Linked DNA regions of Homo sapiens: all the other regions are linked to region 2. Evidence: fine-mapped expression QTL. A gene starts in region 2. Each other region holds a variant in brackets. All regions are shown on one strand. Distances are between the middles of the regions.

What was found.
Region 1: its variant is fine-mapped to the expression of ABCA7 in prostate (GTEx, PIP 0.93).
Region 3: its variant is fine-mapped to the expression of ABCA7 in whole blood (INTERVAL, PIP 0.93).

Annotation. Positions count from the first base shown.
Region 1 is chr19:660,717-670,921 of GRCh38, reverse strand. It overlaps RNF126 (ring finger protein 126), which reads left to right and starts at 7,708. Exons shown (of 9, transcript NM_194460.3): 1 at 7,708-7,875. The coding sequence starts at 7,801. RefSeq lists silencers at 7,382-7,861, 8,352-8,641 and enhancers at 8,692-8,741, 9,032-9,091, 9,232-9,321. The variant C/T (reference allele first, on the strand shown) is at 5,597.
Region 2 is chr19:1,036,080-1,045,072 of GRCh38, reverse strand. ABCA7 (ATP binding cassette subfamily A member 7) reads right to left here and starts at 4,966. Exons shown (of 47, transcript NM_019112.4): 1 at 4,877-4,966; 2 at 3,646-3,848; 3 at 3,470-3,563; 4 at 3,101-3,242; 5 at 2,897-3,009; 6 at 2,676-2,758; 7 at 2,247-2,327; 8 at 1,822-2,032; 9 at 1,600-1,739; 10 at 1,232-1,348; 11 at 329-496; 12 at 1-71. The coding sequence starts at 3,711. It overlaps CNN2 (calponin 2), which reads right to left. Exons shown (of 7, transcript NM_004368.4): 5 at 8,827-8,943; 6 at 8,511-8,657; 7 at 6,008-7,448. The coding sequence ends at 7,173. RefSeq lists enhancers at 3,122-3,919, 5,812-6,311, 6,312-6,813, 6,401-6,960 and a silencer at 3,831-3,970.
Region 3 is chr19:966,836-977,040 of GRCh38, reverse strand. ARID3A (AT-rich interaction domain 3A) reads right to left here. Exons shown (of 9, transcript NM_005224.3): 7 at 10,173-10,205; 8 at 8,538-8,636; 9 at 1,102-5,163. The coding sequence ends at 4,976. Among named protein-coding and RNA genes, the nearest start is that of WDR18, 12 kb to the left of the region's middle. The variant C/T (reference allele first, on the strand shown) is at 4,775.

The sequences.
Region 1 (10,205 bases), 370 kb after region 2:
ATGCAAGGAGAGCCTTTAGGACCCAGAGCAGCGTGTTCTGTGGGGCTCTAGGGAGCTCACCCTGCGGTACCACCTTCGGCCTCCAGGATGGGAAGCGGGTTGTGGCTTGGTACAGAACAGTCAGGGACACCCGGTCCCACCTTCCTGAGCCCAAAGATACTTGGCATTGGCTTACTGTCTATTGTCTGCAGCCTCTGAGCTAGAACTTGCCAACCCCTGGGCTCCAGGAGGCAAAGACTTGCTGGACTCCGGAGCCTGTGATGCTGATAACATGGCTCAGGCCTGAAGGCCTGGCCTGGTGGGCGGTGTGGGAACACTGGGAAGTGAGCTGGGCCCTAAAACAACCCCATCAGCCGGGTGCGGTGTGAGCTGGGCCCTAAAGCAACCCCACTGGCCAAGTGCCACGGCTCACATCTGTAATCCCAGCACTTTGGGAGGCTGCGGCGGGCAGATCATTTGAGGTCAGGAGTTTGAGACCAGCCTGGCCAACATGGTGAAACCCCGTCTCTACTAAAAATACAAAAAAAATTAGCCGGGCGAGGTGGCACACTCCTGTAATCCCAGCTACTCGGGAAGCTGAAGCAGGAGAATCACTTGAACCCAGGAAGCGGAGGCTGCAGTGAGCCAAGATCGCGCCACTGCACTCCAGCCTGGGTGACAGTGAGACTTCATCTCAAAAAACAAAACAGCTGGGCGCAGTGGCTCACGCCTGTAATTCCTGCACTTTGGGAGGCTGAGGTAGGCAGATCACTTAAGGTCAGGAGTTTGAGACCAGTCTGGCCAACATGGTGAAACCCCATCTCTATTAAAAATACAAAAATTAGCTGGGTGTGGTGCCGGGTGCCTGTAGTCCCAGCCACTCAGGAGGCTCAGGCAGGAGAATTGCTCGAACCTGGAGGGCAGAGGTTTTGGTGAGCCGAGTTCGCACCACTGCACTCCAGCCTGGACAACAGAGCGAGACCCCCGTCTCAAAAAAAATAAATAAATAAGGCCAGGTGAGGTGGCTCACGCCTGTAATCCCAGCACTTCGGGAGGTGGAGGCGGGTGGATCACGAGGTCAGGAGATCGTGACCATCCTGGCTAACACGGTGAAACCCCGTCTCTACTAAAAATGCAAAAAATTAGCCGGGCATGGTGGCGGGCGCCTGTAGTCCCAGCTACTCGGGAGGCTGAGGCAGGAGAATGGCGTGAACCCGGGAGGCGGAGCTTGCAGTGAGCCGAGATGGCACCACTGCACTCCAGCCTGGGCGACAGAGTGAGACTCCATCTCAATAAATAAATAAATAAATAAATAAATAAATAAATAAAAGAAATCTGACATGTATCGGGGGGACCCATTCCCCCCATATTTCAATATAAATTCTTTCTATTTTCCATAAGTGTCGGCTGGCTGAGAAATAAAGAGGAAGAGTACAAAGAGAGGAATTTTACAGCTGGGCCGCCGGGGGGTGACGTCGCATGTCGGTAGGATCGTGCTGCCCCCTGAGCCTTAAACCAGCAAGTTTTTTATTAAGGGTTTCAAGAGGGGAGGGGGTGTGAGAACATGGAGTAGAGCTCATGCTTCAAAGGGCAAAAAACAGAACAAAGATCACTTGCTTCTGAGGGAACAGGAGAAAAGGCAACACAGAACTACTGATAAGGGTCCATGTTCAGCGGTGCACGTATTATCTTGATAAACATCTTGAACAAAAAATAGGGAAACGTCTGACCACAAATTCACCAGGGTGGAGTTTTTCCCCACCGTAGTAAGCCTGAGGGTACTGCAGGAGATCAGGGCGTATCTCAGTCCTTATCTCAACCACGTAAGACAGACATTCCCAGAGCAGCTGTTTATAGACCTCTCCCCAGGAATGCATTCCTTTCCCAGGGTATTAATATTAATATTGCTTGCTAGGAAAAGAATTTAGCGATATCCTCCCTACTTGCATGTCCTTTTATAGGCTCTCTGCAAGAAGAAAAATATGGCTTTTTTTGCCTGACCCTGCAGGCAGTCAGACCTTATGGTTGTCTTCCCTTGTTCCCTAAAATCGCTGTTATTCTGTTTTTTCTCAAGGTGCACTGATTTCATATTGTTCAAACACACGTTTTACAATCAATTTGTACAGTTAACACAATTATCACGGTGGTCCTGAGGTGACATACATCCTCAGCTTACGAAGATAACAGGATTAAGAGATGAGAGTAAGACAGGCGTAAGAAATTATAAAAGTATTAATTTGGGAACTGATAAATGTCCATATTAAAATGAAATCTTCACAATTTATGTTCCTCTGCCACAGCTCCAGGCGGTCCCTCCGTTCGGGGTCCCTGACTTCCCGCAACAGACATGAGTCTTGCTGGGCTAAAATCAAGTGTGTTTGGGGACTTTATTTATTTATTTTGAGGTGAAGTCTCTCACTCACTCTGTCTCTCAGGCTGGAGTGGAGTGGTGCAATCTCAGCTTACTGCAACCTCTGCTCCCGGGTTCAAGTGATTTTCATGCCTCAGCCTCCCGAGTACCTGGGATTACAGGCAGGCACCACCATGCCCGGCTAGTTTTTTTTTTTTAACAAGATGGAGTTTTGCTCTTGTTGCCTAGGCAGGAGTGAAATGGCAAGATCTTGGCTCACTGCAACTTCTGCCTCCCAGATTCAAGCGATTCCCCTGCCTCAGCCTCCCGAGTAGCTGGGATTACAGATGCCTGCTACCATGCCTGGTTAACTTTGTATTTTTAGTAGAGACAGGGTTTCTCCATGTTGGTCAGGCTGGTCTCGAAGTCCCAACTTCAGATGATCCACCCACCTCGGCCTTCCAAAGTGCTGGGATTACAGGCATGAGCCACTGCACCCGGCCATTTTTTTTTTTTTTTTTTTTTTTTTGTTAGTAGAGATGGGTTTCACCATTTTGGCCAGACTAGCCTCGAACTCCTGACCTCAAATGATCCACCCGCCTCAGCCTTCCAAAGTGCTGGGATTACGGGAATGAGCCACCGCCCCTGGCCCAGTTTGGGGCCTTTACTCTTCCGATCATGGTGCTCGATACTGTTGGGTGGATGGCTGGTTTCAGCAGACGTTTGTGGCACAGGCCCCGCTCCTGGCACAGAGCGGAGGCTCCACGACACTTGATGAAGCAACGGTGGCCCAACCCCTGCCAGGATGAGGGTGGAGGGAGGAACTGTTTCCTTCCTCAGGAGGCAGCCACAGTCCAGTCCCAAAGCTGCCGCCTCAGGCAATCGGCTTCCTCCCTGGGCCTCAGTTTCCTCATTGGTGCAATGGGGCCAGCTGCAGTTATTTCTTCCCAGGGGGGTTGGGAGAAGTGAATACACAACCACTAGGTCTACCTGGGACGTGGTCTGCCTGGGCTTGGTCTGCCTGGGACGTGGTCCACCTGGGCTTGGTCCGCCTGGGACGTGGTCTGCCTGGGACGTGGTCCGCCTGGGCTTGGTCTGCCTGGGACGTGGTCTGCCTGGGACATGGTCCGCCTGGGACGTGGTCCACCTGGGCTTGGTCCGCCTGGGACGTGGTCCGCCTGGGACGTGGTCCACCTGGGCTTGGTCCGCCTGGGACGTGGTCCGCCTGGGACGTGGTCCGCCTGGGCTTGGTCCGCCTGGGACGTGGTCCGCCTGGGACGTGGTCCGCCTGGGACGTGGTCCGCCTGGGCTTGGTCTGCCTGGGACGTGGTCCACCTGGGCTTGGTCTGCCTGGGACGTGGTCCACCTGGGCTTGGTCTGCCTGGGACGTGAGAATGAGCTGTCAACACACCTCTCTGCCCCGGAGGGAGTGGCGCGTGTCATTCCTTTAGGAGTCCTCTCGTCTCATGTTTGCCGAGGCCCCCAGGGTTCACGGGGACGGGATCCTGAATTGAAAAAGGGGCTAAGAGAGCTCACGGAACCAAGCCCACACCTGTCGAGGTCCCTGGTGAGAGGAAATGGGAGAAACGGTGCCGTCTGTGGAACCAGGGTGGCCGGTGGGGCCTGGGGCAGGGTGCAAGTGTGTGCATTTGTGTGCAGCAGTGTCAGTGCCCACTGGCCGATTTGATCAATGTGCTACTGCCTTCAGGGAAGAGCAGCCTGCTTTTTGGTGTGTTTGGGATAAAGGGGTGGCCGGGCACTCTGGCTCACACCTGTGATCCCCACACTTTGGGAGGCCAAGGTGGGAGGATCCCGTGAGCCCAGGAGTTGGAGATCACTCTGGGCAACATAGCCAGATCCTATCTCTACAAAATAAAAATTTAAAACGATTAGCCTCACGCCTGTGATCCCAGCACTTTGGGAGGCTGAGGTGGGCGGATCACCTGAGGTCAGGAGTTGGAGACCAGCCTACTTAACATGGAGAAACTCCGTCTCTACTAGAAGGACAAAAATTAGCCGGGCGTGGTGGCACATGCCTGTAATCCCAGCTACTTGGGAGGCTGAGCCAGGATAATCGCTTGATCCTAGGAGGCAGAATTTGCAGTGAGCCCAGATCATGCCACTGCACTCCAGCCTGGGCGGCAGAGGGAGACCCATCTCAAACAAAACAAAACAAAACAAAACAAAACAAAAAAGATGGGGTCTCCATCTGTGGCCCAGGCTGGAGTGCAGTGGTCCGATCTCAGCTCACTGCAACCTCTGCCTCCTGCTCAAGTGATCCTTCTGTCTCAGCCTCCTGAGTAGGTGGGATCACAGGTGCCCGCCACCACACCTGGCTAATTTTTGTATTTTTAGTAGAGACACGGTTTCACCATGTAGCCCAGGCTGGTCTTCAACTCCTGGACTCAAGTGATCCTCCTGCCTCAGCCTCTCAAGGTGCTGGGATTACAGGCATGAGCCACTGTCCCCGGCCTAATTCTATTTTTGTAGAGACAGGGTCTCACTATGTTGCTCAGGATGGTTTTGAACTCCTGGTCTCAGGCGTGAGCCACCTCGCCCTGCTTAGTTTGATACAAAATCCCTACGTTCCTTCTCATTCCCACTGTGTTTCCAGCACCTGCTTGAGCCCAGCACACAGTAGACACTCGGCAACTGTTGGTGCATTTGGGAATCTACTGAACACCTACTGGTGCGCTGGGTATTGGCCTCACATATGGGGAGACGCCATTAATAACCCACAGATGTGAGGATGGCTGTGGGGGATGGAAAGGGGGCTCTGAGAAGTGGGGTGCAGTGGTGGATGGGGCAGCCTCCTAAAAACCAGGGGAAAGGGCCGGGCGCGGTGGCTCACGCCTGTCATCCCAGCACTTTGGGACGCCGAGGTGGGCGGATCACCTGAGGTCAGGAGTTCGAGACCAGCCTGGCCAACATGGCGAAACCCCAGCTCTACTAAAAATACAAAAATTAGCCGGGCGTGGTGGCGCATGCCTGTGATCCCAGCTACTCGGGAGGCTGAGGCAGGAGAATCGCTTGACCCCTGGAGGCGGAGGTTGCAGTGAGCTGAGATCGCACCATTGCACTCCAGCCTGGGCAACAGAGTGAGACTCCATCTCAAAAAAAAAAAAAAAAAAAAAAAAAAGCAGGGGAAGGAGAGGGGACTTGGGGAAGGGCACAGCCTTGCAAGGCCCAGAGGTGGGAACCTGCTTAGCCCACCCAAGGGGGCCAGTGAGGCTGGGGAGGGGTCAGCGAGGGGCAGGTGACTCGGGG[C/T]AGGCAGCAGAGCACAGAGAGGGCTGAGGAGGTGCCAGCGGTCCTCATGTCTGCTCCGAGCCAACGGAAAACCGTCAGGTTCTGCCGCCTTCTCAGAGGTTAGGCCACTTGCCTAGGGACACACAGCCAGTTCGTGGTTTGGCGTCGTTTGAACCAGGCCTGCTGCTCCTCCTGCACTTGCGGAGCGTGAAGGCTGGTGCAGGGGCTGCGTCTGGCAAGCCTCGCCCCTCCCCAGCCTGGGGTTTTCCTGGATTCCCAGGGACGGGGCCCGTGCGCTCTCTGGTGGTCAGAGCAGGAATGACTGGATTCGCGCTGCTGCAAAGACGACTGGAAGGAGGCTGAAGCCCCTGTCCCCAACCTCTGGACATTCAAAACCCTAAATGCAGGCCGGGCGCGGTGGCTTACGCCTGTAATCCCAGCACTATGGCAGGCCGAGGCGGGCGGATCACCTGAGGTCAGGAGTTTGAGACCAGCCTGGCCAACATAGTGAAACCCCGTCTACTAAAAATACAAAAATTAGGCGGGCGTGGTGGTGCCCAGCCTGTAATCCCAGCAACTCGGGAGCCTGAGGCAGGAGAATCACTTGAACCCGGGAGGCGGAGGTTACAGTGAACCGAGATTGCGCCATTGCACTGCAGCCTGGGCAACAGAGCCAGACTCCATCTCTAAAAAACAAACAAACAAACAAAAAATCTAAATGCACAGGCTCCAACTCTTAATTCCTCAACAGTCTCGCTCCAATGCCTCATTTTGCAGGAAGTCCAACTCCAACCAAATCCTATTCATCCCTCAGCCCTGGTTCCAATGTCCTTACCCCTCGGAAGCCCTCTCTCTCTTTCCCCAGGCAGAGCCAGAGTCACCCTTGAGTTCCACGCTCCTGTCCAATCTCATGGGACTGGGGGTATCTGCGTGCATTCAGCATAGGGTCTGGTGTGCAGTAGTTGCTCAATGAGTGTTGAGTGAAGAAAGAAATACACGCATGAGGCCGGGCGCGGTGGCTCATGCCTGTAATCCCAGCACTTTGGGAGGCCGAGGCGGGCGGATCACGAGGTCAGGAGTTCAAGACCAGCCTGGCCAAATATAGTGAAACCCCGTTTCTACTAAAAATACAAAAATTAGCCGGTGTGGTGGCGGGTGCCTCTAGTCCTAGCTACTCGAGAGGCTGAGGCGGGAGAATCGCTTGAACCCTCGGCAGGCGGAGGTTGCAGTGAGCCGAGATCGGGCCATTGCACCCCAGCCTGGGTGACAGAGTGAGACTCCGTCTCAAAAAAAAAAAGAAAAAAGAAATGCATGCATGATTGGGCCAGAACTAACCTCAGAAATGATCCTGGCCTGTGCTGGGTGATGATACCGTTTCTACTGATTAAATTTGGAAGCAGGGGTTAGGTTTCCTGCCTTCTCCGCACCCGAGAGGCGCCTGGGCCGTCAGCCCGTGGAGCATCTTGGAAACAAGGCCACAACCCACAGACCTCAGCCTCTGTCTGACCCCACGGGTCCCAGTGAGGCCCAGACAGCGCCCTGAGCCCCGGGTCTGCCTGTATTCCGCAGCGCTGAGGGAATGCCTGCTGTGTGTCAGGCGCTGCTGCGGGTCCAAAAATCCCTTTGCTGCGCAGCTGACCTGACAGTGCATCGGGAGGGAATCAGTGCCACGGAGCAGGAGGGCAGCAGAGAAGACCTTGTAAGCTGACATTTGAGCAAAGACCTGGAAGAAAGCCACGCGGGCGTCGGGAGAGCGCTGCACCGGGCAGCGGGCGGGGGAGAGGGCGCCTGGCGAGCCCCAGGAACGGTGGGGACAGTGGGCTGAAGTACCGTGAGGGGAGACGGCGATGAGGTAGGGAAGCACTGAGGGACACGAAGGCCTGGGCAGCTTCGGGAGGGGAGGAGGGCCTCGGCCCCGCCCCGCGCACGCCCCGCTTCTCGTCTCTTCCGCCGCCTGCTTTGGCCCCGCCCCCGCCGGAAGCCCCGCCCCCGCTTGGAGCCCCGCCCAACGGCCGGGCCTAGTTTGTCTCTCAGCGGCCACCGTCGCCCGGGCCGCTGCCCGCCGAGTACGCAGCTTTCGCCGCTCCCGCGCCCCCGCTCCGCCCCGCGTGCCGTGCGTGCCGTGCGTGAGCGTGCGCGGGCGCGTCGGCCGGCGAGGGAGCAGCAAACGGCCGGCGGCGGGTGCCGCGCGGGGGGCGGGCGGCGCGGAGTAGGTGGCGGCGGCCATGGCCGAGGCGTCGCCGCATCCCGGACGGTACTTCTGCCACTGCTGCTCCGTGGAGATCGTCCCGCGCCTGCCGGTGAGGCCCGGGCCGGGGCGGCGGGCGGCAGGGTCTGCGCCGCAGGCCTGAGGCAAGGCCGGGGCCGGGGTGGGGGTCGCTTGCGCCCGCCTCTTGCGCGAGCTGACCACGACGGGAAAACTGAGGCTCGGGGCAGCGCCGGCCCAGGCTGAATCCGCGGGGAGCCCGGGCGGTGCGCGCGCGAACCCCGTCCTGTACATGCGGGAGACTGAGGCCCGGGCGGGAGGCAGGGCCTGGCCGGAGCGGCGCAGCGGGATCGCGGCCGGGTGACCCCACATCCGCGGCGTTCCCGACCCGAGAGGCCGCGAGGATCCCAGGTGGGATCCCTAAGCCCGGTGAGCCTGGTTTTGCAAACGGAGAAACTGAGGCCCGGCGAGCAGAGAGAGGGTATTGCCCGGTGGCGCGGCGCGGGGCAGGGGCTGGGCCTGGCGGGGCTCGGACCCCGAGAATAACGCCAGGGGACCCCCGCCGAGCGCGTGGTTGGGGGCGCCGGCGCCTCGCTGCAGGCTCGCCTCGTGGAGCCCTGGCCGCCGCCTTGGAGGCAGGCCCAGGCCCGGAACGCCCCAGGCACTGTCCCGGGGTCCGACCGCGGCCCGCCGGCGGGGCTTTGTGAGCAGAGCCTGCGTTCCTCCCCTCCCGGGGCTTGGCTGCGCAGCCCACCCTTCCTCCAGGTGTTTACAGCCGCCCCTCACCGAAGAGGACCCTGGGCCTGGGCGTGCCGAGTGCTACTTCCTGCTCGTTTAGGGCAGTGTTTCCCACGCGGACCTGATGTCACCTTGGGGGAGGTGGGAGCAGCGCTCGTTGAAGGTGCTATTTCCAGGCCCCTTTTCCAGGGTTTCGGAGTCAGTAGGTGTGGAATGCGCTCAGCAGTCTGCATTTCTAATATTATTTTTAGGAATGGGGTCTCCCTGTGTTGCCCAGGCTGGTCTTGAACTCCTGGGCTCAAGCGATTCTTCTGGCTCAGCCTCCCAAAACGCTGGGATTACAGGTGTGAGCCACCGTGCCCGGCGGTGGTCTGCATTTTTAACCCGTGTTGCCCTTCGCCAGGCTGACGTGCAAAGTGGTGATTTAGTCGAGCCACCCGTGCTTTATAGATGGGGAAACTGAGGCGCGTGGTGGCTCAGCGGGAAAGTGGCAGAGCCGGCTCAGTCGGGAGCCGCTTGGCCAGCTTGAGGGGAGCAGCCGCAGGAGGTGGAGGGGTCTGGACTCCCCACCCTGTGCCCAGGGGAAGAGGCTGCAGGCATTGAGGATTTACTGTGCTGTGTACGTAGCCGCCCGGCTGTTGCTACGCTTTGACCCGTAAGAGAAGTCCAAGCCCCCCAGAAGCAGTGCAGTTCCCCGGGAGTAGAGACCCAGGAAGGGGCTGGAGGGAGTCAGGAGAAGCCGCCTGTCTCTGGGTCACAGAGGAGGAGCGAGTGCTAGAGTTGGGGCATGGCGGGAGAGCGGGGCCAGGCCCAGGAGTGGAAAGAGAGAGGTGTGGTTTCCTCTCTACTGAAGCCACAGGGCTTCCCCTCCCCAGCAGGAGGAACAAATAAAGTGAAATCTCGGGTGTGGGGCGAAGGTTGGGGAGCTGAGACTGAGCCTTGCCTTACTCCTCTGTCTCCCAGGGGTCTCGCTCTTGCCTCTTCCAGCTTTCTGTCCCCACTGGCCGTGGCAGGAGAGGCTGGTTGCCTGACAGCCCGCCAGCCTGGGTGAGTTGCAGGGCAGCCCCTTGCAGCCCCTTGAGCCCTGGGACAGGCCTGGGAAGCCCCTGGGAAGCCTGGAGTGGTGGCTGTGGGGGGCCGACACTGCCTTGACTCGGCTGCACATTTAGCTGCTCCTAGAGCCCGCACAGGACTGGATCCTGGTGTGGTGGAGCCACTTCCTCGCCCCGTGGCCTTGGACACGGAGGACCTTGACCTCCTCCGACTGTCACTGGGCCTGGGGAGGGCCTTCCTGTAGTGAAAGGAACTCTGTGGTGACAGGCCGCTGTGGTCTTTGCCCTCACAGAATTTACAGGCTGGCCAGGGAGCCAGCATGGAACAGTGATTGACAAATATTTAATCATGGACGTTGGTAGATTCCTTAAGAGCAAATAACTGCAGAGAGGGCTGCGGGGGCCTGCCCGTGTCCACCCCGCGGGTGATCCCAAGGGCATCTGCTTGTGCCTTTGGAGCAGGACGCAACAAGGCGCCCGTAGACAGCATGGCAGTGTCAGAACTTCTCCGTACGTGGCAGGACCCTGTCTCTACAGAAGACTAAAACAATTAGTGGGGTGTGTTGTTGCACTCCTGGAGTCCCAGCTACTGGCGGGGGCTGAGGTGGTGGGAGGAGCGCTTGAGCCTGGGAGG
Region 2 (8,993 bases):
AGCAGTTGCAGGGCCCGCGACACCAGGGCTGCCTCTGAGGGTGCCGCCTCCAGCTTGTCCAAGGACAGGCACTGTGGGATGCGGGGGTGAGTCCTAGGCGCTGGGGTCCGCCTGCCTCCTAGACCACTCCGCTCCTCCCCCTGGACCTCGGGGCTGGGCCATGTTTTCCCCTCGTAGGCCCACGGCCGGCTCCCTCCTGAGATCTCTACAAATCCCAGGCTCTTACTAGGGCCGGGCCCGCCTCCCCCTGGGAACACCAGGGTGGGAACACTAGGATGGGACCTGCCCTCCCCACTGAAACAGACCCCGCAGGTGGACAGGCCCTCACCTCCGTCACTCGGCCCAGCGTGCCCACCAGGTGCCCCACATCAGCGTGTGCGTCCTGCCAGCTGTAGCCACCGCTCCCAGGGTCCAGAAAGGATCGCAGGGCCTCCATGTGGTCCCGGCCTCCAGGTCTGGGCTGCCTTCTTCCTTCATCCTGCATCTGCAGGAGCCGCTGGGGGGCGCAGGTGAAAGTGAGAGTCTGGGTCGGGCACAGTGGCTCATGCCTGTAATCCCAGCACTTTGGGAGGCGAGGCGGGTGGATCACCTGAGGTCAGGAGTTCGAGACCAGCCTGGCCAACATGGTGAAAGCCCATCTCTACTAAAAATACAAAAAGTAGCCGGGAGTGGTGGCGCATGCCTGTAATCCCAGTTACTTGTGAGGCTGAAGCAGGAGAATTGCTTGAATCCAGGAGGCGGAGGTTGCAGTGAGCCAAGATCTCGCCACTGCAGTCCAGCCTGGGCAACAGAGTGAGACTCCATCTCTTAAAAAAAAAAAAAAAAAAAAAAAAAGCAGGACGTGGTAGTTCACGCCTGTAATCCCAGCACTTTGGGAGGCCGAGGCGGGTGGATCACGAGGTCAGGAGATCGAGACCATCCTGGCTAACATGGTTAAACCCCGTCTCTACTAAAAATAAAAAAAAAAAATCATCCGGGCGTGGTGGTGGGCGCCTGTAGTCCCAGCTACTCAGAGGGTGAGACAGGAGAATCGCTTGAACCCGGGAGGTGGAGGTTGCAGTGAGTCGAGATCACGCCACTGCATTCCAGCTTGGGCGACAGAGCGAGACTCCATCTCAAAAAAAAAAAAAAAAAAGTGGGGGTCTGCACGGAGCCCACCTTCCCATCCACCGGGCCTGTCTACCCTCCTCACCGGGGAGCCACATCCCACCTCCCCAGCACCCCCGCACACCTGCAGCATGGCCACATTGGAACTGTCGTTCATGAAGGTGAAGATCCGGGGTCCCAGCATCTCCCACACCTCCCGGACATCCCTCAGCAGGGTGAGCTCCTCGAAGGTCCGGTTCACCTGTGGACAGCACCCCCTCCACTGATGACCCTCTCCTCCTCTGAGGACCCCTGCCCACCCCCTGCCCCCTCTGCCTTGCTCCTGCGTGTGCCTCTGATCCTCCGCACAAGCTGATCCCCCTCCATCGGCTAACTCCTACTTCTTCAAATAGTTTCCGTGACCCTCCGGCCTGGCCCTGGCCCACCTGGACTGAGGGTACTGGATGGGCTCTGGCCACCACCCTCCCACCCCAGCATCCAGGCTGCCCCCACCTGGGCCATGAGCTTCCGGGTAAAAGGTGTATCTGGTGCAAAGAGTAGCTTCCCGAGGATCAGAGGCTTCAGGCGTCTCCAGAGCAGGCGGGACAGCGGGTGGCTGTCCAGGGCTCCAATCAGCTCCGAGCAGGCGGGGCCTGGGATGGGGGTGCCATGAGGCCCTGCCCCCCTGCCCAGAGTTCCACTTCCCAAGAGGGGAAACCGAGGTCAGTCACTCACTCAGGCTGCTGTCTGGCAGGGCGGATTCTGGCTCCTGCCCCACCAGCTCCATCAGGTCACTAGCCTCGTACCAGTTGAGGGAGGGGCCCACTGTGCTGCTAGGTCCCCTGACACTGCAGAGGGCCTCTGACAGCAACTCCAGGGGGCCGCTGGTCCCTCGGGGTCTCTGCAGCAGTGCCCGAAGCTCCACCAGGCTGCGCAGCGCCAGGAGCTAGAGAGAGGTTACCAGACGGAGCTGGCAATGATCCCACCTCCAAGCCCTAACCAGGGCAGGGCACTGGGCCAGGGGCAGCCTCTCCCTCTCGCTGTCTAATCCTCCTGAAAACCCACCCAAGGGAAGTGCCCGGGCTGCCCCAGACCCTCCCGGCGCAGGCTGCCTGCCAACGTTGCCTCCATGGGGGTTGAGGATGAGTGGGGCCTCGTACCTCCTGGGCCAGGTCCTCAGCGGCCTCCAACAAGCTGTGCAAGGGCTCCTGGGCTTGGCCCAGTGCCAACCCCAGGGATTCCTGGGGAGAAAGACCACAAGGGGGACAATGATTTTGAACACTCACTAGGGGTCCAGCGCTCTGGCCAGTTCCCAGGCAGACCATACTATCATAGCCCCCACTTTACAAATAGGGAAACTGAGGCTCTGAGAGGCAAAGGGACTCATTGGAGATCTCACAGACGAGTCTTCCTCACTGGGTCAGACACACTCTGTCTGGGGGCCCAGACGGACAAGCAGCATCACCGCAGAGACCAGGGACAGCCTGGATGCCTGGAACGGGAGGTCCTTGGCCCGGGGTGGGGCAGTGCCAGGACATCCCCAGTGCAGTGTCCCAGGAAGTCAGCGCGGTCCCGCCCCGACACCCTACCGTGCGCAGCAGTGACGTCAGCAGCTCCGCGACATCCAGCATGGGTGGTTCCAGTGGAGACTGCTTGGTTGGTTGAGGCTGGGCTGGGGGAGGAGCGCACGGGAGCATGGGGCTGGGGGGACGTTGGTCTGAGGCACCCACCCCCACCCTGTGCCCATTTCACGGCCCGGCAAGTTGAGGCTCAGAGCTCAGCCCTGCCAGAGGCCCCCCGGCCTCCTCACCCGTGCTGCGTGCAGCCCTCAGCGTGGCGATCAGCTTCCCTAGGCCAGCCAGCGTCCTGTGGGCACTGGCCCCTCCCAGCACAGTGCGGGCATCGGCTAGCAGCCGGGAGACCCTGGGGACAGAGAGAGGGCAGGAGGCGGGGTTCCGGCCGGCACTGCAGCCCCGAGTTTGCAGGCCGGCCGCACCCACTGCCTCTGGCTCACAGGGAGTCGTTGAAGTTGCTCAGGCGCCCGGGCTCCTCGCCCGGTGTCAGCTGCGGAAAGCAGGTGTTGTTCACATTACAGATGAGACCCTGGAGCCAGGGCACGGTGCCCGCCGATGGCAGTGGCTTGTTTGGGAAGTGGCCTGCGGGGAGACGCCTGGTGCTGAGGCCCTGTGGACTCTGCCTGACTCCACCCCCATCGGGTCGCCCGGCACCGCTTGCATGCCTCCAGCGATGGAGAGCTCACTCCCATGCCATGTATTGGCGGCCTGGTGAAGGCTCCCTGACATGCACGGGGGATTCCTGTGCACGGGTGAGCCATCTGCCTTCCCCTACACACACAAAGTGCCTGGTCCCTGGGGGGGCTCACATTCATGGTGCTCCAGGGGCGGGTGGGAGTGGCGAACAGCCACCAGGATGAAGAAGAGGAAGAGAGGCCACAGCAATTCGACCAGGAGCTGGACCTGGGGGAGAATAGGTGGGAGACGGTGGGGGACAGTGGGGGCTGCCTGCCCACCCGGCCCTGGTCTCACACTGGGGCGTTACCGGCTGTCTCCGGCGATACATGAAATTCTTCCAGAGCAGCAGCATCAGCTGTGTCCAGAAGGCCATGGTGAGACTGGGCAGGGGACGGGACAGAGAGGTCAGGACAACGGTCGGGCTGAAGACGTGCGGTGCGGCTGCGGGCAACTCCCTGCCCCTTTCTGAACCTCATTCCTTTATCCCACAGCGCAGGGTTCCTGGAAGCTCTGATTAGAGCGAGGCAAACAGTAGTCACTCGATAAAGAGGCTCCGCTACCCCAGGGGTGGAGTAAACCAATGGGAGCGCAACCCGCAGCCGTCCTCGCATCTGATTGGCTGCCAGGACTGTCGCTCTGAGCAGGGCTGACAGCTGGGGACTTAAAGATCATCCTCTAATCCTCCAGGGACCGAGTTTGGGCTTAACGCTTTCGTCACCAGGCTCCACCCCAAGCCTCACCTGGAAGCCTCTTCCAGGTCCTGACCCCCAGCCTCCTGCCTGGCCCAGCCCAGGCAAGGATTCCTTTCCCCTCACTGTTCTCCGAAGATAACAGCAACGAATATTGGCAGTGCTGGACATTTCACACGCCCAGGGGAAGTGCTGGACTATCACCCCACTCTACAGAAGTGGAAACCGAGGCCCAAGAAAGCAAACCCAGGCACCCAGAGAGACAGGCAGTTGCCCAGCTGGAGGCACGACCCCAGCTCTGCCCACACCTTATGTAGCATTAATCGCTCAGAGGGACCGCGGGAGCCAGAGAAAGAGTCAGGCGAAGGGGCTGGGATAGAGACTCCTGGAGTCAGCGATTCCTGATCTATTTTCCTTGGGCCGGTCCACCTCTGACACAGATGGAGAATCTGACGCTGACAGAGGGGCAGGAAGTTGCTAAAGGTGACCAGGCCGGAACTGGGACCTCAGACCCAGACCCTTACGCCAGGGTTCTTTCCTTTACATCAAGCGGGACTTAGGATCTGGGGGAGTGGGCTCAGTTTCTCCATTTGTAAGACGGGGCAAGGGGGAGTGCAGGAGTTCTAACGGGCAGGGGGCTGCAGGTGTGTGATCGGCAAAGGCCCTCTTAAGGGTCCCAGATGTCCGATGCCCCCCTTGAGAATCAGTGATCAATTCAGCCGTCGTCAACATTCACCGGAAGGAGGTCAGAGGCTGGACCCCCTAATTCCCAGGGAACTTGCATCCCTCCCGGCCCCAACCCCGCATTCTCGAGTCTCGGGCCTTCTTCCCTCTCCGAGTCCTTCTCACCTTCCAGGGGCTCCGCAGCTCTTGCCGCCTTCCCTCCGCCCAGCAGCAGGCAGGGAGCGCGCCGCCCCTTAAGCCAAGTGCGCTGAGCTTGCCCGCGCAGGTAGCAGCGCCGGGGCACGCCCCTGCCTCTGCACGCTGCTATTGGGCGACCTGCCCGTCACTCACTGGCCTGCTCCGTCGGAGCTGCGCGGGCCAAGGGAGGAGACGGGATCACAGAAGGGCCTCGCCTAGCCGGGTTTCTTAAAGGGACCGCGCGGCTCTTGCTGCATCACCGTAGGGTGGCGGAGTGCCCGGCAGGTCCCAGGCAGGCCGCCCTCCGGGAACGAGGCTGCGCTGTCTTTGGGGAGCCAGGCTGCCTCCCCACGTTGTATAACCGGCTGCAATACCGCAGCTCCGAATTGCAGGAGTTCCCTCTGTCCCCGCTGTCCCCGGGGCTGGCCAGGCTCCCTCTAGTTTAGTCCAGACTCTGGGACTACACTCGTCCGTCTGTAAAGTAGGGGTTCCACTAGATCATTCGTTCATTCATTCATTCCACGAACGCTCCTCGGCTTCTGCAGAGGATGGCAGGAGGGGGAGGGGGCCAACATTCTAGAGTCTCCGATTATAGTGGCTACCCTGATTTTGAGGAAAACCCGTTTCCCACTCTGGAAGAAGAGTTGAAATAAACTCTTCAGGCTGGAGGTGAAGCTGAAATGGGAGCGTGTGGGTCCACAGCTTTGAAGGCGCTGGGGAGAGTGAGAGGCGTGGGGACGGCTCCCGCGGCAGGAGGTGGCATTGCCGTTGGGGCTTTGAGGATAAATAGGAGTTCGCCAACGGGGAGACATCCAGGCTGAGGCCACGAGACTTGCGCTGTAAGGTAGAGTGCAGCCAAAGCGCATGGGGGGCATTTGAGGGAACTGCCTCTTCTCCAAATGGCCAGGAAGCCCAGCCTCTCCCTCTACCCCAAGTCCCGGCCCTTCAAATCATTCATTCCACCCAGACTCACCTGTGGCTTCAGCTTTTGCTCCTCCTCCCAATGGTGAGGTGGACATTTTCCCCTTGATCCCCCCATCCCCCAAGACCTCCTCTCTCCCCACAAAAGCATCAAAGCAAAGCACGCCCTCATCGACGCCAACTCTCTTGGCCACCTTCTCTTCGTACAAACAGAGGTTTTATTGCGTTTGGTCCACAGTCGTATTTCACATTATCTCACGGAGCAGGTCCCCTGGGTGGGGGGTCCCTGTGCAGTACTTGGCGGGGCATGTGGCCGGGGAAGATGGAGCAGTATAAGCTGGTCGGGCCCAGAAGGGAGGAGGGCTGGGGGCTCCTTAAAACCTACTGAGGGGCTGGGCACGGTGGCTCACACCTGTAATCTCAGCGCTTGGGGAGGCGGAGGCGGGCGGATCACACCTGAGGCCAGGAGTTCGAGACCAGCCTGGCCAACATGGGGAAACCCCATCTCTACTAAAAATACAAAAATTAGCCGGGCGTGGTGGAGCACCTGCAGTCCTAGCTACTCAGGAGGCTGAGGCTGGAGAATCGCTTGAGCCCGGAAGGTGGAGGTGCAGTGAGCCAAGATGGCGCCACTGCACTCCAGCCTGGGCAACAACCACAACTGAAAAAAAAATCTACTGAGGCCAGAGTGGGTTGGGGCGGGGAGCATGGAGAGGGGGTCAGGCTTAGCCCCAACAACTCAGAATTTCACTTCCTTGTACGGCCCTCACTTTCTCCACCTGGCCCCGGGGCAGGTCTGAGGGTCTGAAGTCTGTTGGTCTGAAGGTCCTAGGCAAATCCAGTCACTTGGGAGCCGGAGATATTTAACATCACGGCCCGGTCCCCTTTCCCAGGGGACTCATTTCCTAGCACTCTCTCCACTGTCCTTGCCCCACCCCTGGGGGAAAAAATGTATTTTTCTTTTGTGAATACTTCCTGAAACTTGCGGGCATAGAAACCACAAACTGCTCAGCTGACAAAAGGGGGAAGAGGCGAGGCAAGCAGAAACCGTCGGGGACCGGTTCCTTCCAAGCCCAGGTCTCTTCTTCCCAGCACAGCCTGAATGTGCCAGCAGGGACCCTCGCCCTACACGTATTGGGATATGGCCTTGACCCCTTCCCCCACAGCCCAGTGGCTCAGCCTTGCGAAGGATCAAGGCAAAGGGGAAAAAAGCTCTGCTGCCTGATCCCACGCTGACACTCACAGACCCTTGGTTGACTGGCAGCACTGAACGGGTTAAGAAAAAAAAAAAAAAGATGAAAACACAGAAAAACCCAAAAACCCAGATGGGCAGACGATGTGGGGAGAGAGCGTGCTGGGAGCCTCAGTAGCCGGCCTCCTCCTGGTAGTAAGGGGGATATTCAGGGACCTCCCCCGGGTCCGGGCAGTCGCCGGTGCCCGAGGGAGCCCCATCGGCCACTGTGCCTTGCGGGCAGTACTTGGGGTCATATATCTGCCGGCCCAGGCCGAAGACCTGGCCGCTCTGGTTGGCGCCCTGCGTGTAGCCCATCTGCAGGGACATGGAGGAGTTGTCACACTTGTCGGTTCCCAGCTTGGTATCATAGATGTGCCGCCGGGTCCCGGGAGCCGTCATGCCCACCTGGAGAGGAAGGAGGGGTGGAGCAGGTCATGGTGGAGAGAAGAGGGGACCTTCACTGGGTGCACTGGCTCACGCCTGTAATCCCAGCACTTTGGGAGGCCAAGGTGGGAGGATCACCTGAGGTCAGGAGTTCCAGTCCAGCCTGGCCAACACGGTGAAACCCTGTCTCTCCCAAAAATACAAAATTAGCTGGGCGTGGTGGCACATGCCTGTAATCCCAGCTACTCGGGAGGCTGAGGTGGGAGGATCACCTGAGGTCAGAAGTTCAAGACCAGCCTGGCCAACACGGTGAAACCCCATATCTACTAAAAATACAAAAATTAGCCGGGCGTGGTGGCGGGCGCCTGTAGTCTCAGCTACTCGGGAGGCTGAGGTGGGAGGATCACCTGAGGTCAGGAGTTCAAGACTAGCCTGACCAACACAGTGAAACCCCGTCTCTACTAAAAATACAAAAATTAGCTGGGTGTGGCCGGGTGCGGTGGCTCACACCTGTAACCCTAGCAGTTTGGGAGGTCAAGGCGGGTGGATTGCCTGAGCTCAGGAGTTCGAGACCAGCCTGGGCAACATGGTGAAACCCCATGTCTACTAAAAATACAAAAATTGGCCGGGTGTGGCAGCATGCACCTGTAGTCCCAGCTACTCGGGAGGCTGAGGCAGGAAGGAGAATCTCTTGAACCCGGGAGGCAGAGGTTGCAGTGAGCCGAGATCGTGCCACTGCACTCCAGCCTGGACAACAGAGTGAGATCCTATCTCAAAATAAATACATAAATAAAATAAATAAAGATTAAAAAAAAAGAATTGGGTGGACCTTTGGGCAGTCCTTAAGGGAAAATGACACAGGGTGAGGTAGTAACTTCCCTAGAGACCCACAGCCAGGTGGAAATGACAGAGGCTGAAATCCAAGGCGGAGACAGAGAGCGGGGAGGGAAGCCGGAGGTGGTCTAGGGAAGGGGCTGAGACTGAGAGTGGGGAGAGAAGCTGGAGGTGGCCCCAGGGAGGGGCCGAGACCACAGGGTGTAGAGGGGCAGGGAGAGGAGTCGGGGGCACCCGGGCGAGCCCCACCTGGCTGGCACACTTGTTCGTGCCCATCTGGAGGCTGATGGTCGAGTGGTCCATGGGGGGCAGGATATGGTTCTTGGGGTCATAGAGATGCCTTCTCGTGCCGTAGGCAGTCATGCCCGACTGGCTGGCGCATTTGTTGGTGCCCATCTGCAGGGAGGTTCGTGGGAGAGGTCAGACTGCACCCAACAAGCTTCCGGTCCCTCCCTGAAATTGAGGGACCACAGGGCTCCATGCCGCTGTCCCCCAATGCTGCTGTCCCCCAACACCGTGGTCCCCCAATGCCGTGGTCCCTGGGGCTGGGGGAGCTGTCGCCCACCTGCAGCCCGATGACGCACTGGCCAGCCTTCATGGTGGCATCGTCGAAATTCCGCTCCTGCTTCTCCGAGTACTTGACGCCAATGTCCACCCCGCTCTGCAGCCCCTTAGTCTTGGCCTGGGTGAGGGAAAGGGGCCGGGAGTACCAGCAGAGGGCAGCCAGGGACC
Region 3 (10,205 bases), 69 kb after region 2:
TGGACCTTGCGGTTGGATCCTTCTCTGGGGTGGGGACGTCCTGGGCACTCAGGGTGCCGAGCAGCGTCCCTGGACTTCACCCACTCCATGTCAGGAGCTCCCCCCAGATGGGACAACCACAGATGTCCCCAGACATGGACCAGGGTCCCCTGGGGGCGGAATCACCCTGGTTAAGGCCCTCTGGGTTAGGGGATTCCATGGACCCCCTACAGACTCTGCATCCCATGATCCTCGGCCCTGCTGGGGTCCCAGGAGGCTGCACACACTGAAATCCATGCCCTGAGTAGGGAGGGAGAGAGGAGGCGAGTCCCAGGAGCTGGGTTCCCCCGGGTTTACACCGTCTGCCCTGTCAGGAGCTTATCCTGGTGTCTGCTGTGGGCAGGGAGAACTGTTTTTACCCCACCTTAAATAATGAAGGCAGAATTTCCCAACTCCTGCAGTGTGGATGCTGGGCGCCAGATTGTTCTCTGCGGTGGGGCCGTCCTGGGCACTCAGGGTGCCGAGCAGCATCCCAGGACTCCACCCACTCCACACCAGGAGCGCCCCCCCAGGCGTGACAACCACAAATGCCCCCAGACATGGACCAGGGTCCCCCTGGGGGCACAGACCCTGGCTGAGGACCCCTGCTTTTTTTTTTTTTTTTTTTTTTGATGGAGTTTCCCTCTTGTCGCCGAGGCTGGAGTGCAGTGGCGCAATCTCGGCTCACTGCAACCTCCGCCTCCTGGGTTCAAGTAATTCTCCTGCCTCAGCCTCCGGAGTAGCTGGGATTACAGGCACGCGCCACCACGCCCGGATAATTTTGTATTTTTAGTAGAGATGGGGTTTCACCATGTTGGTCAGGCTGGTCTCAAACTCCCGAACTCAGGTGATTCCGCCCTCCTAGACCTCCCAAAGTGCTGGGATAACAGGCGTGAGCCACCGCACCTGGCCAGACCCCCGCTTTTGTAGCTGTCTCTGCCGCCCGGAACCAGACCTAGAGCGATGCAGGGCAGAGGGGGATAGAGCACCCCCTTCCACTCACCCCTGGCTGTGCTGGGCAGGGGTGTAGGGTGGAGCTGGAGGTTGGGGAGACGCCAAAAGAAAAAAAACACCACAGGACACTTTTCTGTTAAAAGTCAGAAGTGTTTTGTCTCGTTTTAATATCTCATCAGCTTTACAGGGTTACAATCGTCTTAAATATTTCTGAAGTTTAAATACAATCTGCATAATAATGTTACTATAAAATGTAAACTTTCAGTGTTCTTTTAAATTTCAAAATCACACTTTTTTTTTTTTTTGGTCTTTTTGTCTTTTTTTTTTTTTTTCCTTTTAATACCTGAATGTTCTGCGAAAACTGAAATTGTTACAGGCCACCCTGCCGCGGCCAGGGCGAGACAGGCTGGGCCCAGCCAGAGGTAGAGAGTAGTTTTATGTTTTTTAAAAATTTTTTTAAGTTTTTTTTTTTTTCCTCCTATTACCTGAGTTTCAGGCGTGGTTCCCACGCCGTCTGACAAACTCCAGAGAAACTGAAATTTCACACGTCATGAATGAAAGGCTGAGTTTACATTTGCCAAGGAAAAAAATGCAAAAGCACAATTGGGGAAAAAAGGGACAAGGTGGGTAAAACATGATAAGAGAAAGGAAATTCAACTGTACAGATGCGTGACCCTTAACAACGACCCCAGCTGCCCCCCGTGCCCCGTGCCCACCCTCCCGCCTTTCTGGACAGCCACTTACGGGTCCCACGGAAGGTTCCAGAAGCCGCCTTTCTCCCAACATCTCAGAGCAGGGGGAGCCCCCGTTGGCCTTGACTGTGGGGCACCCACTCAGTACGCAGCCAGGCCCCACGGTCCCAAGTGAACTAGAACCCATCCAGGGTCCTCGTGGCTGAGGGGACTGCCCGACCCCCTCCCAGTCTGCATAAGGGGGGGTGCTGAGCTGCACCCCAGAAAGCCACACCGAATTTAAACCCCCACCGACAGGCGGTGGCAGGAGATGGGCACGGCTGGGGTTGAACGGGGCCACCTGAGGCAGGGAGGAGCCTCTGCAGACACGGCTTCCTGCCGAGTATCCAGGACCGGGCCCCATAGACCCTCTGCAACCGCCTCCCATTTCCACGGCCAGCATGGCCACTGCCTTCAGCGACTTCCTTCTCCTGGGCCGGGACCCAGCCTCGCGCCCACCCCCCACCCACCCCGCCTGTCCCTACAATCATCGGAGTTAACAGCAGGCTCAAGTCCTCTGAGTTAGAATCCAGGTCCACCCACCGCCGGGAGGCCGGATCGCCCACAGACACGACACGCAGGATTCCCGACACACACACGCAGCCCGAGGGAGACGACCCAGCCCTCGACCCTGCACGGCCCCTCCCCAGGCTCCGAGGTGGGCAGGTGCACGGGGGCCCCAGGGGTCCAGGGCCGCCAGATGCAGCAGGCAGCCAGGCCCCAGTGGCTGCTGCAGACCCTGGTGCACGGGAGGCGGGGGAGAGGCACCCCAGGGGCTCAGATTTTGGCATCAAAAGTCAGACCTGAGGTAGACAGAGATAGGCAGCAGGCGCTTCCCCCGGCGCGGGGCCCAGGCGTGGGACGGGGGTCCCGGGAGAGGAGCCCTGGAGGCCGGGGGACAGACACGGACAGAGTCCAGGTGGTTCTGCGAGTGGGGCCCGATTGTGTCTGGAGGCAAACAGACACCCCCTTCCCGGGGTGATTGTGCTGCTACGGTGCTGGCCCCAGGAAGGGACAAGGAAAACCTAGACGCCCACCACCCCCTCCTGGAAAGGGGGTGTGTGTCCACGGCCCTGAGATCCGAGAAGGAAGTGGGGGTCCCCTCCCCAAAGACACAGGAAAGTGACAGTCCCCTCCCACAGCCCGACGGGAAAGTGAACCTAGACTCAGGGGCTCAGAAGCCCCCCAGCCCCCTCCCCAGGGGTCTCCAAGGCAATGGGGAGGTGGTTGGGAGTGGGGGGAGCTGGGGAGTCCCCTTCCTCACCAAGCCCCCATGCCGGTGGCCTAACAGGGCTCCCAGGGCCCAATTAGAGACCCAGGCTTACCCTGGGAATAGCTGAGTTAATCCCCACTGCACCCCAAGAGAAATGAAAGCCCAGAGCTCCCGTGTAGGACACGACAGCCCCGCCCAACACCACGCGGGTCCAACGAAGTCCCCAGACCCTGCTGGGCATTTCAGACCCAGCCTTTCTGCTCCAGCAGCTCCAGCCAAAATAACCCCCCAGCTCAGCTGCGGTGACCCCACTTTCTCCAAGCCAGGGGGAGGGGTACTGACCCACAGGGTGGTGGGGGGCAGCCTCCCTTCTCGGCCTCGATTTAGTCACCGCAGAACTCGGGGAGCTCGCAGCCCCAGCACAAAAGGGGTTGGGAGAAGAGGAAGGGACAGAGCGAGGAGAATGTTGGGGTGTGGGGGGTGTTCAGGATGCCGGGGCCCTGAAATCCTCACCCTGAGTGAGGTCCGGCTTCACCCCCACTCCCCAGTATTGATAGTCCTCAAAAGCAGCCCTTTCGGGCAAGAGAAGAATCCCAATGAGACGCCACATTCATCCCTGAGACAGGAGCCTGGGGGCTTCGACAAGAACCACCCCCGCCCCCCAGGCCCTTTTTCCAGCACTTGCTACTTTTTAGATAAGATTTCCAGACCGGGCCAGCGTGGCGGCTCATGCCTGTAATCCCAGCACTTTGGGAGGCCAAGGCGGGCAGATCACCTGAGGTCAGGAGTTCGAGATCAGCCTGACCAACATGGCAAAACCCCCATCTCTACTAAAAATACAAAAATTAACTGGGCGTGGTGGCGGGCGCCTGTAATCCCAGCTACTCCGGAGGCTGAGGCAGGAGAATCGCTTGCACCTGGGAGGTGCAGGTTGCAGTGAGCCAAGATCGCACCATTGCACTCACTCCAGCCTGGGCGACAAGAGCAAAACTCCGTCTCAAAAAAAAAAAAAAAAAAAAATTTCCAGGCCCCTGACTCGAGAGCCCAGCAGACAAGCACGGCACAAGCAAAAGCATCGTGGAATATCACAGTCAGCAATTCACTGTCAGGGGCCCCTGGCCGGTGGGACCCCAGCATGCACCCTCTGCCCCAGCCCGGCCCATAGCACCTGAGTTCATTGGCTCCGCGGCTCTAGCCCCAGGGATCCGATGTGCTGGGCTCACAGCTGCCCAACGCACCCCCAGAAATGGACAAAGGGACCCAAATTGGTCATGGGAAAAATAAAAAGGTGAGTTTTTTTTTTTTTTTTTTTTTTTTTTTTTTGCTTTTTTTTCTTGCTTTTTCAAGACCAGTTTCCCTGAAGGAACACAAATATATAGCTATATAGATATATAGATATCCTTTTCCTAAGGTTTGATCCCCCCAAGAATAAAATAGAATATTTACACAACAAAACCCCCGAAACCTCTTAAAAACCCTACAGAGAAAAAAAAATTTCCCAAAGCAACAAGAAAAAAACAAAAATTCAGTGATCTTGGTTCAGGGGTTTCACTGGACACGAGAAGCTGGGAGTGGTGAGTGTGTGGTGAATAGAAAATAAAAGAGAACTAAAGCAGACAAAAATGAAAACACACAGTGCAGGGATGTATGAGGTAAACAGGATCGGCCCACACTGCTGTGGGGCCAAACCAGACACCAGAGCCTTCGGTCCATCAGGGCTGCCTGAACGCCCTGGGAAACGTCTGCCTCTTTCTGTTTTTCTGATGGATTTCTTTGCTGTTCTCACAATTCATCTCTCTGAATGTCCAAAACCTGAGAAATTCAAGTGTTCCTTGGTTTTCCCCTGTTTTATTAAATT[C/T]TCTTTATATATATACGTGTATATATATATATATATATATATATCTTTTTTCTTTTCTTTTTGGCGTCAGCTGTGGCTCCTTTCTGGATATCTTCCCTCCCCACCCGTATCTTCCGCCATCCTGGCCCCTGTGTGGCCCACCTGGACCCCCTGCCCAGGCCGGCGGGCTCCAGGGTGGGTGGCGGGTGGGGAGTGATGCGGTTAAGGCAACGAGTTATTTGAGGTAGATGTGGAGGGTGTGGACAGCCCCGCTGGCCCAGCCTGGCCGCCGCTGGTTCCGGTGTTTCCTCCCCGGCCGCCTGCGTTGCTGCTGCTGCCGCCGCCGCCGCCGCCTCCTTTGTTGGGAGCAGAGGTTGGCGTGGGGGCCGGCGGCTGAGCAAACAGAACTCCTAAGGCAAGAACAGAAGACATATGCCATGCAGAGTTTAAGAAGATGCGAGGCGGGCCACAAGGGAGACCCAATGGGGTGCTCCGGGGAATAAACTTCTCTCTCACTCTGTCCCCCAGGCTAGAGTGCAGTGGTGGCATCAGAGCTCACTGCAGCCTCAACCTCATGGGCTCAAGTGATCCTCCCAGCTCAGCCTCCCGAGTAGCTGAGACCACAGGGGCGTGCCACCATGTCTGGCTAATTTTTTATTTTTTTGTTTTTTTTTGAGATGGTGTCTCGCTCTGTCGCGCAGGCTGGAGTGCAGTGGTGCGATATTGGCTCACTGCAACCTCCACCTCCTGGGTTCAAGCAGTTTTCCTGTCTCACCCTCCTGAGTAGCTGGGACTAACTACAGGCGCCTGCCACTACACCAGCCAATTTTTTATTTTTAGTACAGACGGAGTTTCACCATGTTGGCCAGGCTGGTCTCCAACTCCTGACCTCAGGTGATCCACCCACCTTGGCCTCCCAGAGTGCTGGGATGACAGGCATGAGCCACTGTGGCTGGCAATATTTTAGCAATTTTTTATTTTTTGTAGAGATGGGCTCTCAATATGTTGCCCAGGCTGGTCTCAAGTTCCTGGCCTAAAACAATCCTCCTGCCTCTGACTCCCAAAGTGCTGGGATTACAGACGTGAGCCCAGCTTAAACTTCCCCACTGTGTCTGCTCACTCCTTCATCACACACATGTGCATATATATGGATGCACGTGAGCACACACGTGTGTTTAATCCACACATGCACATCAGCGTGCACACAGCTCTTGCAGGGAGAACCCTGATGCCCATGGTTCGTTGATGTGGGGTTGCGAGACCCCTAGCACACAGTTGGCCTTCTCCCCTGTAAGATTCAATATGAATGTACACGTTTTACATCTGATTTCCGGAGGGCACGGACCCCTCAAAAATCCATTTGTGGACCTGTGAGGACACCACTGACCTTCAGCTCAGCCTCTGACCACAGCCGGGCGGGGGCCTGCAACAAGGCTGCTCTGTGTCGACAGCGCCACCTGGTGGCCACTATGAACCATCGGCCTGACTCCACTTTAAGAAAAACTATTCATTTACCGCCGGGTGTGGTGGCTAATGCCTGTAATCCCAGCACTTTGGGAGGCCAAGACCAGCAGATCACGAAGTCAGGAGTTCGAGACCAGCCTGACCAACATGGTGAAACCCCGTATCATCTAAAAATACAAAAATTAGCCGGGCCTGGTGGCATGCACCTGTAATCCCAGCTACTCAGGAGGCGGAGGTTGCAGGAGCTGAGATCATGCCATTGCACTCCAGCCTGGGCAACAGAGTGAGACTCTGTCTCAAAAAAAAAAAAAAAAAAAAAAAAAAAGAAAAACTATTCATTTACTTATGTTCTTTTGTAGAGATGGGGTCTTCTGTGTTGCCCAGGCTGGCCTCAAGCAAACCTCTCTCCTTAGCCTCCCAAAGTGTTGGGATTACAGGCGTGGGCCACTGCCCCTGGCACTGACTCCACTTTTTTAATTAAATTTTTTAATTCTTTTTTTTTTCTTCCTCTGAGACGAAGTCTTGCTCCATTGCACAGGCTGGAGTGCGGTGGCGCGATCTCGGCTCACTGCAACCTTCGCCTCCCGGGTTCAAGCAATTCTCCTGCCTCAGCCTCCTAAGCAGCTGGGATTATAGGCACACACCAGCACACCTCGCTAATTCTTGTATTTTTAGGGAAGATGGGGTTTCACCATGTTGATCAGGCTGGTCTTGAACTCCTGACCTTGTGACCCACCCACATCAGCCTCCCAAACTGCTGGGATTACAGGTGTGACCTACTGTGCCCGGCAACTTTTTAATTCATTTTATTTAAAAAAATATGTATATATAGGGTGGGCGCGGTGGTTCATGCCTGTAATCCCAGCACTTTGGGAGGCCGAGGCAGGCGGATCACCTGAGGTCAAGAGTCCAAGACCAGCCTGGCCAACATGGTGAAACCTCATCTCTACTAAAAATACAAAAAAAAATTAGCTGGGTGTGGTGACACACGCCTGTAGTCCCAGCTACTTGGGGAGGCTGAGGCAGGAGAATCGCTCGAACCCAGGAGGCACAGGTTGCAGTGAGTCAAGATCGTGCCACTGCACTCCAGCCTGGGTGACAGAGGGAAGACTCCCTCTCAAAAGAAAAAAAAAACAACTATATATATATATATCTATGTAGATATAGATATAAAAGTATATATGTATTTATAGATACATATAAATCTATATCTAATCTATATATATCTATGTATAGCTACAGCTATATCTATCGATATATCTATATATAGATATATAGAGAGAGAGAAGGACGGGATCTCACTCTTTCACCCAGGCTGGAGTGCAATGGTGTGATCTTGACTCACTGCAACCTCCACCTCCTGGGCTCAAGTGATCCTCCCTACTCAGCCTCCCGAGTAGCTGGGACTATGGGCGCCTGCCACCACGCCCTGCTGATTTTTATATTTTTAGGAGAGATGGGGTCTCACTATGTTGCCCAGACTGGTCTTGAACTCCTGGGCTCAAGTGATCCTCCCGTGTTAACCTCCCGAAGTGCTGGAACTATAGCCATGAGCCACTGCACCCAGCCTAGATTCAATTTTTTGGATACCTCATTTACCCTGATGTGATTATTAGGCATTGGATGCCAGTATAAAACATCTCATAAAACCCATAAATATATATACCTACTATGTACCCACAAAAATTACAAATTACAAATTAAAAAAAATAAAAAATACATTCATTAAATTTTTTTTCAAGAGACAGGGTCTCGGTCTGTGGCCCAGGCTGGAGTGCAGTGGCGTCATCACAGCTTGCTGCAGCCTGAAAGTCTCTAACCCCTGGGCTTATACATTCTTTGCTCCTCAGCCTCCGAAAATGCTGGGATTGGCTGGGTGCGGTGGCTCACGCCTGTAATCCCAGCACTTTGGGACGCCGAGGCAGGAAGATTGCGTGAGCCCAGAGTTCAAGACCGGTCTGAGCAACAAAGCAATTTAAAATTTAAAGAGCAACAAAAAATTTAAAAATTAACCAGGTGTGCTGGTGCATGTCTGTGCAAGACTCCGTCTCATTAAAACAAAAAACTAGGAATGTGAACCATCCAACGTCACACTGAATATGTATCTGTGGACGACCCCCTCTGGGCTGAGCGTGGTACCGGGTGAACGATGGTATCCTCTCCATCAGTCTTGACTGTTTGTCCTGCAAAGCCCCTGGCCGTGCCCTGCTCGCCCGCACACCTAGGTTCAAGCAGGTGGGACCAGGCGCAACTCAGGGTCCTGAGTTCACGGCGGCGGGAGAGGCGAGGTCCAGGCAGGGCGTGGCCTCAGGGGTCCTACCTGTGTACATGATGCCGTTGATCTCCACCGACATGCTGATGCTGTTGCTGCCGTTGGTGCCCGTCAGGTTCACAGCAGAGTCCTGGCGGCTTTCGGAGGCTGTGGGAAGAAGAACAAATTAGTTTCTTTTTTTCTTTTTTTTTTTGAGACAGAGTCTTGCTCTGTTGCCCAGGCTGGAGTGCAGTGGCGCGATCTCAGCTCACTGCAAGCTCTGCCTCCTGGGTTCACGCCATTCTCCTGCCTCAGCCTCCCAGTAGCTGGGACTACAGGCGCCCGCCACCACGCCTGGCTAATTTTTTGTATTTTTAGTAGAGATGGGGTTTCACCATGTTGGCCAGGATGGTCTCGATCTCTTGACCTCGTGATCCACCCGCCTCGGCCTCCCAAAGTGCTGGGATTATAGGCATGAGCCACTGTGCCCAGCCGAACAAATGAGTTTCTTTCTTTTTTTTTTTTTTTGAGACGGAGTCTCACTCTGTCACCCAGGCTGGAGTGCAGTGGTGCGATCTCGGCTCACTGCAACCTCCACCTCCAGGGTTCAAGCAATTCTCCTGCCTCAGCCTCCTGAGTAGCTGGGACTATGGGTACACACCAGCACACCCGGCTAATTTTTGTATTTTTAGTAGAGACGGGGTTTCACCATGTTGGCCAGGCTGGTCTTGAAGTCCTGGCCTCAGGTGATCTGCCCGCCTCGGCCTCCCAAAGTGCTGGGATTACAGGCGTGGGCCACCGCGCCCGACCAAAACTGCCATTTCTGATCATAAAGACACCTGTGACATGTTCTGTTTTCTGTCTGTCTCGCCAACTAGATTTTAGCTTTACAAGGTGTAGACGGTGTCTGTCACATTCATGCTGTCACCAGTGCACACAGTAGGTGCTCAATATTTATTTGTTGAATAAGTGTATTTGTCCATACTCCACTTTGTTTTTTTTTACCTTGTTTTTGAGACCAGGTCTTGCTCTGTCACCCAGGCTGGAATGCAGTGGTGCAATCATGGCTCACTGCAGCCTCGACTTCCTGGGCTCAAGTGATCCTCCCATCTCAGCCTCCCGAGTAGCTGGGGCTACAGGAGCGTGTCACCACGCCCAGCTAACTTTTGTAGAGATGGCATCTCACTGTGTTGCTCAGGCTGATCTCAAATTCCTGGGCTCAAGCAATCCTCCCATTTCAGCCTCCCAAAGTGCTGGGATTATAGGCATGAGCCACGGTGCCCAGCCAGTTTACTTTATTATTTTTTATTTTTTGAGATGGAGTTTTGCTATTGTTGCCCAGGCTGGAGTGCAGTGGCGTTATCTCGGGTCACTGCAACCTCCATCTCCCAGTTCATGTGATTCTCCTGCCTCAGCCTCCCAAGTAGCTGGGACTACAGGGGTGCGCTGCCACGCCCGGCTAATTTGTTGTATTTTTAGTAGAGATGGAGTTTCACCATGTTGCCCAGGCTGATCTCGAACTCCTGACCTCAAGTGATCCACCCACCTCGGTCTCCCAAAGTGCTGGGATTACAGATGTCAGCCACTGCACCCGGCTTTTTTTTTCTTATTGATTTGTTGGCACTCTTTACATATGTAGGCTCCAAGGCCCTCACTGTGTGACACACGCAGGAAGCACAGCGGGTCTGGGCACGAGGGCAGTACCTTGGCTGTTGATCCGAATGCTCATGGGCAGCT